Linked DNA regions of Homo sapiens. The protein of the gene in region 3 purifies or fractionates together with the protein of the main gene of each other region. This does not show direct contact. Each region holds a gene or a part of one and is shown on either strand. Other genes may lie near its edges.

Evidence for each region. Proteins that work in one complex are often made in the same cells at the same time.
Region 1: the proteins of BBS7 (region 3) and RFWD3 purify together in Homo sapiens (affinity purification with mass spectrometry; 2 studies listed by BioGRID and IntAct, with this or other methods). This does not show direct contact.
Region 2: the proteins of BBS7 (region 3) and CAMSAP3 purify together in Homo sapiens (affinity purification with mass spectrometry; 2 studies listed by BioGRID and IntAct, with this or other methods). This does not show direct contact.
Region 4: the proteins of BBS7 (region 3) and C5orf34 purify together in Homo sapiens (affinity purification with mass spectrometry; 2 studies listed by BioGRID and IntAct, with this or other methods). This does not show direct contact.

Annotation. Positions count from the first base shown.
Region 1 is NC_000016.10:74,642,878-74,646,377, forward strand, and holds part of RFWD3 (E3 ubiquitin-protein ligase RFWD3), read right to left. Parts: intron 2,788-3,500; exon of another isoform or gene 2,614-2,787; intron 1,859-2,613; coding exon 1,664-1,858; intron 1,577-1,663; coding exon 1,485-1,576; intron 1-1,484. UniProt on the Homo sapiens protein: E3 ubiquitin-protein ligase required for the repair of DNA interstrand cross-links (ICL) in response to DNA damage. Plays a key role in RPA-mediated DNA damage signaling and repair.
Region 2 is NC_000019.10:7,598,863-7,602,362, reverse strand, and holds part of CAMSAP3 (calmodulin-regulated spectrin-associated protein 3), read right to left. Parts: intron 1-3,500. UniProt on the Homo sapiens protein: Key microtubule-organizing protein that specifically binds the minus-end of non-centrosomal microtubules and regulates their dynamics and organization.
Region 3 is NC_000004.12:121,860,475-121,863,974, reverse strand, and holds part of BBS7 (BBSome complex member BBS7), read left to right. Parts: intron 1-695; coding exon 696-758; intron 759-2,295; coding exon 2,296-2,471; intron 2,472-3,500.
Region 4 is NC_000005.10:43,512,349-43,516,648, reverse strand, and holds the start of C5orf34 (uncharacterized protein C5orf34), read left to right. Parts: upstream 1-1,500; 5' UTR 1,501-1,843; exon of another isoform or gene 1,844-2,456; intron 2,457-4,300.

The DNA.
Region 1 (3,500 bases), on a different chromosome or scaffold from region 3:
CTGTATCGGCATTTTGAAACTCTTCACTTTTTCTAATGAGGCTGGAGAGTATACTAATTCCTTATTGTAATCAGTGAATTGTTTTTAAATATAATCACCCATTACAGCCACACGTATAGATTTTGCCTTTTCAACAAAATTCCTCTCTGTACACATCTTCCATTATTTAAAAACGCTACAAGTGAGCATTGGTTGGACCAAATGAGTAAAAACAAGGAAGAAAACTAAAATAATCTGTACAGTGACTACCTATAGAGCTTTTTTTCTTTCTTTTAAAAAAAATTTTAAATACAGATAGGATCTATGTTGGCCAGGTTGGTCTTGAACTCCTGGTCTTAAGCAATCCTTTTGCCTTGGCCTCCCAAAGTGCTGGGATTACAAGAGTGAGCCACCGCACCAGCCTTACTTTTTTTCTAGTTCACAAAAATGCAATCATACTAATAACATGCTTCCACAGGACAACATATGCACATTTCAACATTGTATTCTGTTCATGCATACACCACCGTTCATTCAACTAAGCAATCCCCTTGCCTTAGATTTTTAACAATGCTAAATGAAGTTTCATTAAGTAAATCTTGGTACACAGCCTTCAATGTTTCTTTAGAATGCCTGAACAATTACTAGATCAAAGGCTTTAGAGACACATTTCCAAGGATGTCTCAAAATGATTTTGCCTGTGTACATCCAAACCAGTAAAGTGTGAACCCATGTCACTGTACCTCTCTCTCAATGGTGTGTATGTTCTTTAATATTTTTGAAGCATATACTGAGTGGTGTTACTAGCAACTGTTTTTTTTTTTTTTTTTTTTTTTTGAGACGGAGTCTTGCTCTGTCGCCCAGGCTGGAGTGCAGTGGTGCAATTTCGGCTCACTGCAAGCTCTGCCTCACGGGTTCACGCCATTCTCCTGTCTCAGCCTCCTCAGTAGCTGGGATTACAGGCGTCCGCCACTATGCCCGGCTAATTTTTTTGTATTTTTTAGTAGAGACGGGGTTTCACCGTGTTAGCCAGGATGGTCTTGATCTCCTGACCTTGTGATCTGCCCACCTTGGCCTCCCAAAGTGCTGGGATTACAGGCGTGAGCCACCATGCCCGGCCCTAGCAACTGTTTTGTGCTTCCGAAATCCTGGTAATTTTTTACATTGCACTGCATGTGCAAAGCTTCACTTATGAGTTTTCTGTATGGAGAACTGCTGTGGCGGGGGGTGGTCAGGGATATGAGAAGCAAAAATGGCAACAGAAGTAATGTGCCAGATCCTTGTGTTTAATGCTCTACATAAGGCAAACGATGCAGACTTCCTTAAGAAGATGATCAGACATGAATTATAAATAACAGTGTAAGACAGACTGCCAATGATCCCCAGAGATCCCAAGTCACAGGTCAAGTAAAACCTCACTACGAGTGACTCATAACTTCTTTTTCAGATGTGCCTACAATGAACCAAAAGGGAACATTCCAGCCAGGCATACTCTTACCACCTACCTTTTCATGCGCTCCTGTTCACTAGTGTCCAAAGCTCTCAGGGTTCGGGCATAAAGGACGACAATGTCACTGTGCCTGGCTTTCTTGTTGCACTAAAGAACCCAATAGGACATAATTAGAGTGGTTCTAGGAATCTGCCTGACTTAACATGTTAATGTGTCCTTACCTATGGTCCTTACCTGGGGACATTTTCGTACTTGTCCTTTAAGCCACGTGGAAATGCACCTATACCCAAAGAGATGCCCACAGCGTAATGCTGAGAGCCGGTGGTCCCCAGCATTGGTCCACTGTTCCAGACATATTGTACAAGTGTCCCCTTCTTCCTCATCCATAGAAGCAGAAGGTAGCAGAGGCTCAGACTTCTGGGGAGATGGCTAGATGGAAAGCAGAATATATTCAAATTAGAGAAAATGTAAAATCAATCTTGAAGAAGATGTGCAACTAAGAAATTAACAGAAGTGCAAAAAAAATGATACAATCAAAAGGGCTACAGAACACTTGTAACACCTATGAATCACTTGTCATTCTTTCTAGAATGCAATGTCACAAAATATAAGCTATGAAAACTATACTACTCTTAAATCTTATAAAATTCTTGGATACTTTTTCCTTCACTCAAAGGAAGAAAAGCAGCTATCCATATAAAGAATAGCAGCTATAAAATATTTAACTCATGTGTACCAGAGGGCAAAAAAAGAAAACAAAGGATACAAATGCTTACAAGAAAACACAATGGTCAATAAGTGTTTGCTTATAATTAAAGAAATGCAAATTAAAGAGACCATTTTTCATCTATCAGACTGGTATAAATTGATGTCTGATGACACCAAGCACTGTTGTGGGTAAATGAGATATGGACATGCTTATATACTGTTGCCTTAAATGTAAAGTGGCACACATTTCTGGAGCACCATTTGGCATTATCCATGAAAATTAAAACACATATATCTTTCCTTTGGCATAGCAATCTCTCTGCTAGAGATACCTCATGGATATATAGTCATGCATTGCTTGACAATGGGAATACATTCTGAGAAATGCGTCTTTAGGCGATTTCGTCATTGAATGATCCCAGAGGTACTTAAATAAACCTAGACGGTGTAAACTATTACATACTTAGACAACAAACCTGTATAGGATGTTACTGTACCAAATACTGTAGGCAACTGTAGCACAGTGGTGGGTTTCACCATGTTGGCCGGGCTGGTCCCGAACTCCTGACCTCAAGTGATCCGCCCGCCTTGGTCTCCCAAAGTGCTGGGATTATAAGTGTGAGCCACTGCGCCCAGCCTGGTATTATCATCTAATGGGACAACCATCATACATGTGGTCTGTCATAGACTGAACTATTATGCAGCCCATGATCATAGTCACAAATATTTTCTTTTTTTTTTTTTTTTTTTTTTTTTGAGACAGACTCTCGCTCTGTCGCCCAGGCTGGAGTGTAGCGGCAGAATCTCGGCTCACTGCAAGTTCCGCCTCCTGGGTTCACACCATTCTCTTGCCTCAGCCTCCTGAGTAGCTGGGACTACAGGCGCCTGCCACCAAGCCCGATTTTGTGTATTTTTAGTAGAGACGGGGTTTCACCGTGTTAGTTAGGATGGTCTCGATCTCCTGACCTCGCGATCCGTCCGCCTTGGCCTCCCAAAGTGCAGGGATTACAGACGTGAGCCACCATGCCCAGCCAGTCACAAATATATTCTAAGATAATTATATAAGATTGTTCCAAGCAGGCCAGGTGTAGTAATCACACCTACAGTCCCAGCTTATTGGGAGGCCAAGGCAGGAGGATTCCTTGAGCTCAGGAGTTTGAAACCAGACTGGACAACATAGCAAGACCTTGTCCCTGTTAAAAATTTAAAAAATTAGCCATGTGTGGTGGCACATGCCTGCAGTCCCAAGTAGTCAGGAGGCTGAGGTAGAAGCATCACCTGAGCCCGGGATATTGAGGCTGCAGTGAGCTATGATTGTGCCACTGCACTCCAGCATGAGGGACAGAATGAGACCCTGTCTCAA
Region 2 (3,500 bases), on a different chromosome or scaffold from region 3:
ACACTGACATTTATCAGACACTTATTATACACCGATGTTCTTCCACCTTGGTTCATTGGTACTTGGGGCTGGAAAATTCTTTGTATTCAGGGGATGCTGTCCTGTCCTGTACACTGTGAGATGTTTAGCAAAATCTCTGGTCTGTATTTACTAGACGTCAGTAGTACATTCCTCCCAAGTAATGACAACCACAAATGTCCCCAGACACTGCCAAATGTCAATTAAGTGTCAAAATCATCACCAGTTGAGAACCACTGCCTTATACTATAAACTTATTCTATTTTTCTTTCCTTTTTTTTTTGAGACAATCTTGCTCTGTCACCCAGGCTGGAGTGCAGTGGTGCCATCTCGGCTCACTGCGACCTCTGCTTCCCAAGTTCAAGCTATTCTCCTGCTTCAGCCTCCCAAGTAGCTGGGACTACAGGCGTGCACCACCATGCCCGGCTACTTTTTGTATTTTTAGTAGAGATGGGGTTTCACCACGTTGACCAGGCTGGTCTCAAACCCTGACCTCAAGCAACCCACCCACCTTAGCCTCCCAAAGTGCTGGGATTACAGGCATGAGCCACCACACCTGGCCCCACTTTCTTTTTATTTTATTTATTCATTTATTTTATTTTATTTTATTTTATTTTATTTTATTTTATTTTAGAGATGGGGTCTCACTATGTTGCTCAGGCTGGTCTTGAACTCCTGAGTTCAAGGGACCCTCCCACCTCAGCCTCCTGAGTAGCTGGGACTACAGGCATGTGCTACCACACCTGGCTAAAATGTTTACTGAGCATTATTTACAGCAGAACACTGCTGTCTGATAGAAATACAATGTGCCCAGACTGGCCAACATGGTGAAACCCCACCTCTACTAAAAATACAAAAATTAGCTGGGCGTGGTGGCGCATGTCTGTAATCCCAGCTACTCAGGAGGCTGAGGCACGAGAATCACTTGAACCCAGGAGACGGAGGCTGTGGTGAGCCGAGATTGTGCCCCGGCACTCCAGCCTGGGCCACAGAGCAAGATGCTGTCTCAAAAAGAAAAAAAAAAGAAATATAATGCGTATAATGTGAGCCCAATGAGCCGTCAAGTTTCCTAGAAGCCACATTACATATGTAGAAACAATAAGAATTTAGTAATATATTTCATTGACCCAAGACATATCCCACTCTTATTTTAACATGTAATCAACATAAAAATATTATTCATAAGATATTTTACACTGGTTTTTGTTGTTTGTTTTTGGACCAAGTCTTTGGAACCCTGAGTATATTTTACATTTACAGCACATCTTGGTTCTGATCAACCACATTTCAAGTGACTCAGTAGCCACATCTGGCTGGTGGCCACCATATTGAATAGCACAGGTCTACAACATAGCTAGGATGGATGGATGGATGGATGGATAAATGGATGAATGGGTGGGTGAATGGATGGATGGATGGATAAATGGATGAATGGGTGGGTGGATGGATGGATGGATGGATAAATGGATGAATGGGTGGGTGGATGGATGGATGGATGAATGGGTAGGTGGATGGACAGATAGATGGATGGGTAGATGGGTGGGTGGGTGGATGGGTGGATAAGTGGATGGGTGGGTGGGTGGAAGGGTGGGAGGATGGGTGGGTGGGTGGATGGATGGGTGGATGGAAGGGTGGGTGGATGGGTGGGTGGATGGATGAGTGGGTGGGTGGATGGATGAGTGGATGAGTGGGTGGGTGGATGGATAAGTGGGTGGGTGGATGGATGAGTGGATGAGTGGGTGGGTTGGTGGATGGATGAGTGGGTGGGTGTGTGGGTGGATGGATGGGGGGTGGGTGGGTGGATGGATGGATGGGTAGACGAGTGGGTGGGTGGATGGGTGGATAGGTGGATGGGTGGGACGGTGGGAGGGTGGGTGGATGGATGAGGGGGTGGGTGGGTGGGTGGATGGATGGATGGGCGGGTGGATGGATGAGTCGGCGGGTGCATGGATGAGTGGGCGGGTGGACGGATGGGTGGATGGGTGGGTGGGTGGATGAGTGGGTGGGTGGGTGGATGAGTTGGTGGGTGGGTGCGAGGGTGGGAGAGTGGGTGGGTGGGTGGATGGATGAGTGGGTGGGTGGATGGGTGGATGGATGAGTGGGTGGGTGGGTGGGTGGAAGGATAGATGGGTGGGTGGGTGGATGGACGGACGGATGGGTAGATGGGTGGGTGGGTGGATGGGTGGGAGGGTGGGTGGGTGGATGGGTGGGAGGGTGGGTGGGTGGATGGCTGGGTGGGAGTGTGGGTAGGTGGATGGATGGGTGGGTGGATGGATGGATGGGCGGGTGGATGGATGAGTGGGCGGGTGGATGGATGAGTGGGCGGGTGGATGGATGAGTGGGCGGGTGGATGGATGGGTGGATGGGTGGGTGGGTGGATGAGTGGGTGGGTGGGTAGGTGGATGAGTTGGTGGGTGGGTGGATGGATGGATGGGTGGATGGGTGGGTGGATGGATGGGTGGATAGGTGGATGGGTGGGTGGGAGAGTGTGTGGGTGGGTAGGTGGGTGGGTGGATGGGTGGGTGGGTGGGTGGATGGATGGGCGGGTGGATGGATGGGCGGGTGGATGAGTGGGTGGATGGATGAGTGCGTGGTTGGATGGATGAGTGGGGTGGGTGGATGGATGAGTGTGTGGGTGGATGAGTGCGTGGGTGGATGGATGAGTGGGGTGGGTGGATGGATGAGTGGGGTGGGTGGGTGGGTGGATGGATGAGTGGGGTGGGTGGATGGATGAGTGCGGTGAGTAGGTGGGTGGGTGGATGGATGGATGGATGGATGGATGGATGGATGAATGAATGGGTGGGTGGAAGGATGGATGAGTGGGTGGATGGATGGGTGGATGGATGAGTGCGTGGGTGGATGGATGAGTGGGGTGGGTGGGTGGGTGGGTGGATGGATGAGTGCAGTGGGTAGGTGGGTGGATGGATGGATGGATGAATGAATGGGTGGATGGATGGGTGGATGGATGGATGAGTGGGTGGATGGATGGGTGGATGGATGAGTGCGTGGGTGGATGGATGAGTGGGGTGGGTGGATGGATGAGTGGGGTGGGTGGGTGGATGGATGAGTGCAGTGGGTAGGTGGGTGGGTGGATGGATGGATGAATGAATGGGTGGGTGGATGGATGGATGAGTGGGTAGATGGATGGGTGGATGGATGGATGGAAGGCTGATTGAGACAGGATCTCACTCTGTTGCCCAGGCTGGAGTGCAGTGGCGTGATCATAGCTGACTGTACCCTGGAACTCCTGGGCTCAGGCAATCCTCCTGCCTCAGCCTCCTGAGTAGCTGGGACTACAAGCCCATGCCACCACACCCAACCATTTATTTATACCATGACCTTCCCTGCATCCAGTCATTTAATCCTTACGACACTTATTATTATACCCCTTGTACAGATGAGAAAACCAAGGCCTGGAGAGCTGAGATAACTTGTCCAGGATAAAAATGTCCAACATGAACTTGAGTTTCCCTCACACATCA
Region 3 (3,500 bases):
GCTCACCTCCTGCTGTGTGGCCTGGTACCCAGCAGGCCACGTACTGGAACTGGTCTAAGGTTGTTTGATATCTACTTTTGAGGAAGAAGTGTTAAAATGTCCCTCTATATTTATTTCAAAACAATTCATTGTCTACATGTTGGTAATTGTTGAAACTAGGTGATAGGCACATGATAATTCATTATAATATTTTGTGTACATTTTCATACATTAAAATTTTTCTTTTAAAAAAGGTGTTTAAAATTATTAAATATGTCAGTCACAACTTTATTTGATAATCTGTTTTAAAAGTTAATCTTAAAATGTTCTTATGCTCCAGTTATGAAAAAAAAATTACTTTGTAGGCATTTCTGTCCATAACTGTTGTCTGGCAGTATACCTTCGTAACAACCTGCATGTGGACTCCCAGAACCTACAATAAAAGTTGAAAAAAAGCAAAACAAAATATATTGTGTTGTCCTATTAACATTATAGGAACAAAATCTATGGCCAATTACTTTTCTAATGACTCTCCATATCCTTCTCTTTTGGCTCTTGTTCTTTTGAGGATTATTTTTTGTGGGGGTGTCTTTCCTAGATTTTCTGATCTCTATTAAGTCAGTATTTATAAATTAAGAATCTTGCTTTCCCTGTATATAATTATTAGGTCATAATATTAATAATAGTAATTTTAGATTATCTTCCATCTATTACAGGTGGTTATTGGAGATCATGATGGGGTAGTTATGTGCTTTGGCATGAAGAAAGGAGAAGCAGCAGTAAGTATAGCTTTGTGAAGGGGAAAAATGGTTTTCTAAAAGAGAATGCACTATTTATTGAATAATACTAGGTTAAAAATTTCCTAAAATACAGGTAATGGAAAATGGGTTCTGAGGTAAGTAGTTATGTGAGATATGAGTCTGCGGGTAGCACAAAAGTAATTTGCTAGCTAGTTGTAAGGCACCTTTGGCATCCTGTGGTCGTGGGTTACTTTTCTATGCTGTGTAATATATTACCCCAAATTTAGGGCCTTAACACAACACACATTTATTATCTAACAGTTTCTGTAGCACAGGAGTTTGTGCTCAAGGTTTCACACAGCTGCAATTTAGATGTCAGCTGAGCTGTGTTCCTTTCTAGAGTGTGGGGTCTTATTCCAAGCTCATGTGGTTGTTTGCAGAATTCAGTTCCTTGCTATTATAGGACTGAGGTCCCCACTTTATTAACATCTGTAAACCAGGGGCTGCTCTCAATTCCTTGAGGTCTCTGCAATTTCTTGCTCTGTGGTTCTCTTACAGTCCTTCTCACAACATGGTAATCTAATTCATCAAAGCCAGCAGGAAATTTCTGTAGTCTGCTAAGAAAGAATCTTATGTAGCATAATGTAATCATGGAAGCAACTAACCCACAACCTTTTCCACTTAATTTAACCTAATCAAGGAAGTTATTACTATTACATTATCATATTTACAGATCATAATTAGAAACTTAGAATGATGAGTCTGAGATGTGAATTCTAGTATTCATTATATATTATATGGAATTTCCAGAAAGATGAAGAGAATAAAAACTACCAGAAACTCAGTGTTTCCATTATTCATATTCTCCCAGATATCTTATTCTCTGTATATAAAGTCATGGGGAGGAAGTGGAGGAGAAGAAGCTGGTGCAAATAATAAAATGGAAAATAACCACAAAAAAATTAATGAAATGAATATTGTTTTCAGTTAAATAGATATATGATTATAGGTATTAAGTCATACATTCACATTTTCAGTAAATTCTATAGTCCTTTAACTATTAAAATTTATAAAAATTGTAAAGAAGCCAGGAAAGATTAGTTTTAAAAGATGATTGAAGTGTAAAAACATGTTCATTGGACCTCATTAAAGAATTTGCCAAATGGACTTCCCTGTTCGTAGGAGTATTGTTAATCCAATGCCTCTAAAACTTCAGTAGGCATAGGAACCAGCTGGGGAATCTTGTTAAAATACAGATTCTCATTCAGTTGATCTGCTGCATTTTAAATAAATTTAGTGATGCTAACATTGCTGCTTAGTGAACTGTACTTTGAATTACAAGGATTTAGATTTCAATGACATCATTCAAATATGTGTGGGAATATATATTTAAAAGTTAAGTATAGCAAAAAACCTGAAGACCTGCTGAAGTATATAGATTATTATCTAAAATTATTTCTATATAGTGGAACTATAATATTTTGCAAATTTAACATCATAACATTTTCTATTGTAAAGGAAAAAATGCTCACAATAAAGTAATTTGTGTACTTTTTTCCTGAATGATTTTTTTCAGGCAGTGTTCAAGACTTTACCCGGGCCGAAGATTGCAAGGCTGGAACTGGGAGGGGTTATCAACACACCTCAGGAGAAAATTTTTATTGCTGCAGCATCTGAGATTAGAGGCTTCACAAAAAGAGGAAAACAGTTCCTCTCCTTTGAAACAAACCTCACTGAAAGCATTAAAGCTATGTATGTCTTTTGTTCTCTTTTGTATTTTTACATACTTATTTATAATATTTTGGATAGATGTGAGGCAACTAAGTATCATATCTTAATAGGCTTTCTGGAAAATAAAATTAACTAAAGGTATTTTATTAGTCAGAAACTAAATTTGACCTACAATCAATATTAAATTGGTTGTTGAAATTTTTTTAAAGAACTTTATAGTATTTATACAATCATTTTTGACAACTTGGTTCAGTTTGATTCATGATCAAGGTATCAAAAAAATTGAAAATAAATCTAGATATTTAGCTTTATGTTCCTTGGCTATTTTTGATAGTTCTGGTTTTCAGGTAGCATCATTATGTTAAAAGGCTGGCTGTCAAAGTTAGTGATTACCAATAGGGTATAATTTCAGGTATATCAGGTAAGACTCTAAGTGAAATATAGCTCCCTAAATGGCTGCCTGATATGTGAGATTTTGCAATTCAGATTTGAGTTTTTGAATCACAGGGAGCTGAAAAGGGCTTTAAAATTCATCTAATTCATTATTTCTTATATTTGCTACTTAGAAGAATCCCTTGGGCCACTTAAACAATTCCTTGTCCTACCTCATACCTGCCGAATCAAAATAACCAGGAGTAGGTTTTATTTTTATTTTTTAAGTTCTTCCTTTGAATCTAGTGCAGCCAAGTTATATAATCAGCCAGACTCTTAGGCTAGAAACAACTGATTCAGCCCAAAGTTTTGTATAATGCACAGCACATCTCCTGATGTTTGGGATGTAAAACATTGGCTTGGTGAAATTAGATTAAAATTAAACCATGATAAGTGGAAATATGTAATTTCAAATGGTTTAACAAGAATAGTAACACTTTTGAAATACACTTGTATATAGACATGGCCAATGATAATTATGGAATACTGAAAGTAATGTGTTAATAGCATAACTCTACATTCGGACAGTTATATGGATAGTAGTGTGAGAAAGATAGAGAGTTTCTCAGTAACAGTCTCTTCAAGTGGTTTCTTAAATGTTTTTACTAGAGTGGCAAA
Region 4 (4,300 bases), on a different chromosome or scaffold from region 3:
GAATTGCTTGAACCCGGGAGGCGGAGATTGCAGTGAGCTGAAATCGCGCCACTGCACTGCAGCCTGGGCGACAGAGTGAGACTCCGTCTCAAAAAAAAAAGAAAAAGAAAAGGAGAGAGAGAGAGAGAAGGTCAAGTGCCGCATTTAACCATGATCTTAGGATGGGCTCCCTGCATGCTCAGAGCCCTCTTTACCCTTGGGAAGTGAGCACACACAGTGATTTTATGGATTTATACACATGCCCATCTGAGGCTTTCTTCCTTTTTCCGGTGGAGTGTATCAGAAAAATCATACTTCATCACTTTTGTCTCTTAACCGGCATGCCCAGGAAGTTGCTTCTCTCTGGGGCCTGCATTCAATTAACATTTTGATGTTAACAGGTGTGGGCCATCAGGAAATGGCCTTTCCCTGGCGCTGCCAAATTTTCATTTTTAGAGAGGCCATGTGATAATTGCTGAACCATCACCCAACATTTCTAGTGGGTGGGTGGCAGGGGAGAGCCCTCTCCTGCCTTGCTCATGCCTAACTACCTGTAACAGATTCAGTTCGCCATTTTATAATGTATGAGCATGATCTGTGGTCCCCCAAAACAATTACAGTAGTGACATCAAAGATCAGTGATCACACAGATCACTCTAACAGATACAAAAATAATGAAAAAGTTTGAAATATTGTGGGAATTACCAAAATATGTCAGAGACACAAAGTGAGCACATGATGTTGGAAAAACATGGCACCCATACACTTGCTCCATCAAGGTTGCCTCAAACCTTCCATTTGTAGTAAACTCAGTATCTGCAAAGCACAATAAAATGCACAATAAAACAAGGTATGCCTCTCTATGCTCTCACAAACCTCTGTATTTTATCTTAGAAACACTCACAACTGTAATAAATGATTGTTTATTCTTTCTTTCCAGTTAATCTCTAGCTCTGATCCTCACCCGCAAAGAACTGGGCCACCTTCCCTGCTTTATCCCCACTATGCCTAAACACACAGTGAGTGTTCCATAAACACTTGTTTAGTGGCAATAAATATAGCAGACACATTTATTTGCCACTTTATAAGGAAAAAAGGTGCAGATACATAGACGACCTATTTTCTGATACCAAATTAGGAAGAGTTCTCCATCTTTGGCCAAGTTTTTTTTTTTCTAAACAGCTTTACTGAAGTATAATCGTTTTTTACCTTATTTAAAAATAAGTACCACTCCACTAAAACGCGCTCTGTGGTTAGTTCTCGGCTGGACCGTTCAAAAGGCTGATCCTTACAGCCTTTATTATTAATACAACCAGGTCGGGACTGCTTTTGCGTGGGTCACCAGAAGTAAAAAATCAAAGAGGAGCCAACCCCATTCCGAACAAGGAAACACCCGTCCCCTTCCTACACCAATTCCTGCTCCGCCCTTCGTAGGGAACGCAGCGAGGGCAGCCTCCGGAGTGGAGGGGCGGGACTTCCGGCCCTTCCTGTTGTGGAGGGGCGGGACTTCCTGTCTTCCCTGTTGCGGAGCTCTGAAGCGGCTCCCTGAGGGCGCTGGTTTTGAACTGGTCTTGTGCGGTTTGCGCTTTCTCTTAGTGGTTACAGTTGGCGCTGTCTCCGCTTTCCTGTTTCGTGGCGGGCATCTTGGCCAAAACACTCTCCCTGCCACCTTATTCCTCTAGGGTTGTGATTTTTTTCTTTCACCAAGAAATATCACTCGCTGGTAATTTGTCAAACTGAAGAAACCCCTGAAGAAGCAGTGGTGGGCAGGCGCCGACGCTGCGGCTTCCAGAGCATTTTGGCAAATCAAAGCCAGGGACCGTTGCTGGGCCTCATTTCCGCAACTTTTCGGCTCCGAACTGCTGTGAGTGGAAGACTTTTGGTGGTTGTTTTGATCAGGCTCCTTCTGTAACTAGAGACTATAGCATTTTGAAAGAAATGAGATTCTCATTCATGTCAAGAACAGACTTGTGGATTTTTGAGTGTTAAACATACCCTGACGTAATGTGCTGGGTGATGAGAACGCAAGCGGGAATGAGACTGTAGAGATGAGAATGGCAGTGTGGGTTGGAGCCGGGTTATGGTTTCCTATGGTATGCCAAGAACCTTAGTCATTACACTGTTTGTTGTGTATGCTTGATTATTTAAAATTAGAAAACCGCCTCAGTAAAGCTATTAAAAAAAAGACCTGACCAAAGATAGACTATTTTTCCCAAATTGGAATCAGAAAATGTCTTCCATCTATGTATCAGCACCCGTTTTTTCCCCTAAAATACCAAGTAGACATACCCGATATATACGTGTGTGTTTATATATATATCTGTAATCTATATTGCCATTTGATAAGTACGTAAACAGGTGATGTAAAGCACTTGGTATGGTGTGACTTGTGGAAAGTTACCTATGTCATCAATACTAGAGATGGATTGGAGAGAGAAGAAATTCCAGACAGTTGCAGGAGTTGGAGAGTCTATGGCCTGAAAAAGAGAAAGAGGTAGAGAGAGTCAGGTTCCAAAGACAGAAAATCAACAGGACTTGTTACAGGGGCATGGAGTGGAAAGTCAAGTTTTAGAATATTGGCTGCTAACAATGAGACACCATTAATTCAAATTGCAAATTCAAGAGGAGCAGTTTACTTATTTTTCATCATTCAAATATTTATTGTGCCATTTACTATTTGCCTAATACTGTTTTAGATGCCAGAGATACTGTTACATATAAGACAGATAAGGCCCCTGCTTCGGTTGACTTTATATCCTAGTGGGAGAAAATAAAAAGCAAGTAAATAATCAATTTTGATGATAGATTCTATGAAGAAAAAACTTGAAGAGGGATGACAAATGATTGGGAGATGTTTGGGAGTAACTTTAACTTAGTTGGTCGTTGGGCCCTTGTAGGAGTTACATTTGTGCTGAAACCTTGATGATGATAAAGAACCAGCCTTGTGATTAGCCAAGGAAAAGACAAGGCAGGCAGAAAGAACTGCAAAGATGGGAAAGAGCTTGTTTAAAGAACATTTAAAATGCCAATGTATCTAAAGTGCCCTGTAGAAGTAGGAGAGAGTTGAGAAATGACATTGGGAGAGGTAGATAGGACCAGACTGTGTGGCCTTTGTAGGCCATAGTTTAGGAGTTTGGATTTTAAGTAGAAATGGAAGGTACTGGTGGGTTTTAAGCCACGAAGTGATAGATGTGATTTTCATTTTAAAAGATCCCTCTGGGCACTACTGTATGCAGACTGGATTTGAGGGAAGAGATGAGAGTGAAAGTGCAATTAGGGGGTATTACAGAAGCCTGCTTTTGGTAGGAGTGATTAAGTTCCATTTTAGTTATGTTGAGTTTGATTTATCTATGGGACAGGGACATAGAGAGCGGTCTAGCAGGCAGCCACCTGAAAGCTCTGTGAGAGGTCAGGTACATTTAGTTCTCTAGAGAAAGAAAATAATTAAAAGTGTGTGAATCTCCTCAGGAGAGACCATGTGGTTAAATATTTACTTATATCCTGACATATCCTCAGAAGATTACAGATGATATCACCTACAGCTGATTACATACATTAAAGGGGGTAAGGTTAAAAAAAGACAAGGTGGGCCAGGTGCGGTGGCTCACGCCTGTAATCCCAGCACTTTGGGAGGCCAAAACGGGTGGATCACGAGGTGTGGAGTTCCAGACCATTCTGGCCAACATGGTGAAAACCTGTCTCTACTAAAAATACAAAAAATGAGCCAGGCGTGGTGGCACGCACCTGTAGTCCCAGCTACTCAGGAGGCTGAGGCAGGAGAATCACTTGAACCCGGGAGGCAGAGGTTGCAGTGAGCCCAGATTGCGCCACTCTACTCCAGCCTGGCAACAGAGCAAGACTCTGTCTCAAAAAAAAAAAAAAAAAAAAAAAAAAAAAAAAAAAAAAAAAGACAAGGTGGGGCATAAAAGTGACATCAGTGTTATGTTAAGAAGGGATGAAATGTGGACTAAGGTCAGGTCTTGAAGAATCCTTGATTTAAGGGAATGGTGAAGAAGAATGATTAAACTAAAAACAGGTAGAAGTGAAGAAGAAAACTGTGGCAGCCCAATGTTAGGGGAGAAAAGTAGGGGAAAAGAGAGTTTGGTGCAAGGGAATGTAGACAATGCTGTTACACGTTGATGAGGTTTAGTAGGATGAAGACTAAAGTCATTGGGTATAAGAAGACATTGGCGACCATTGCGAAACAATGTCAGTAAAGAGATAGAGGTGAAAGCTGGATTGCAGTGAATTGAAGACTGATAGGAGAGAAGGTTGGTAGTGAGTGAATACTACACTTGAGCTGTTTATAGGTAGGAAATAG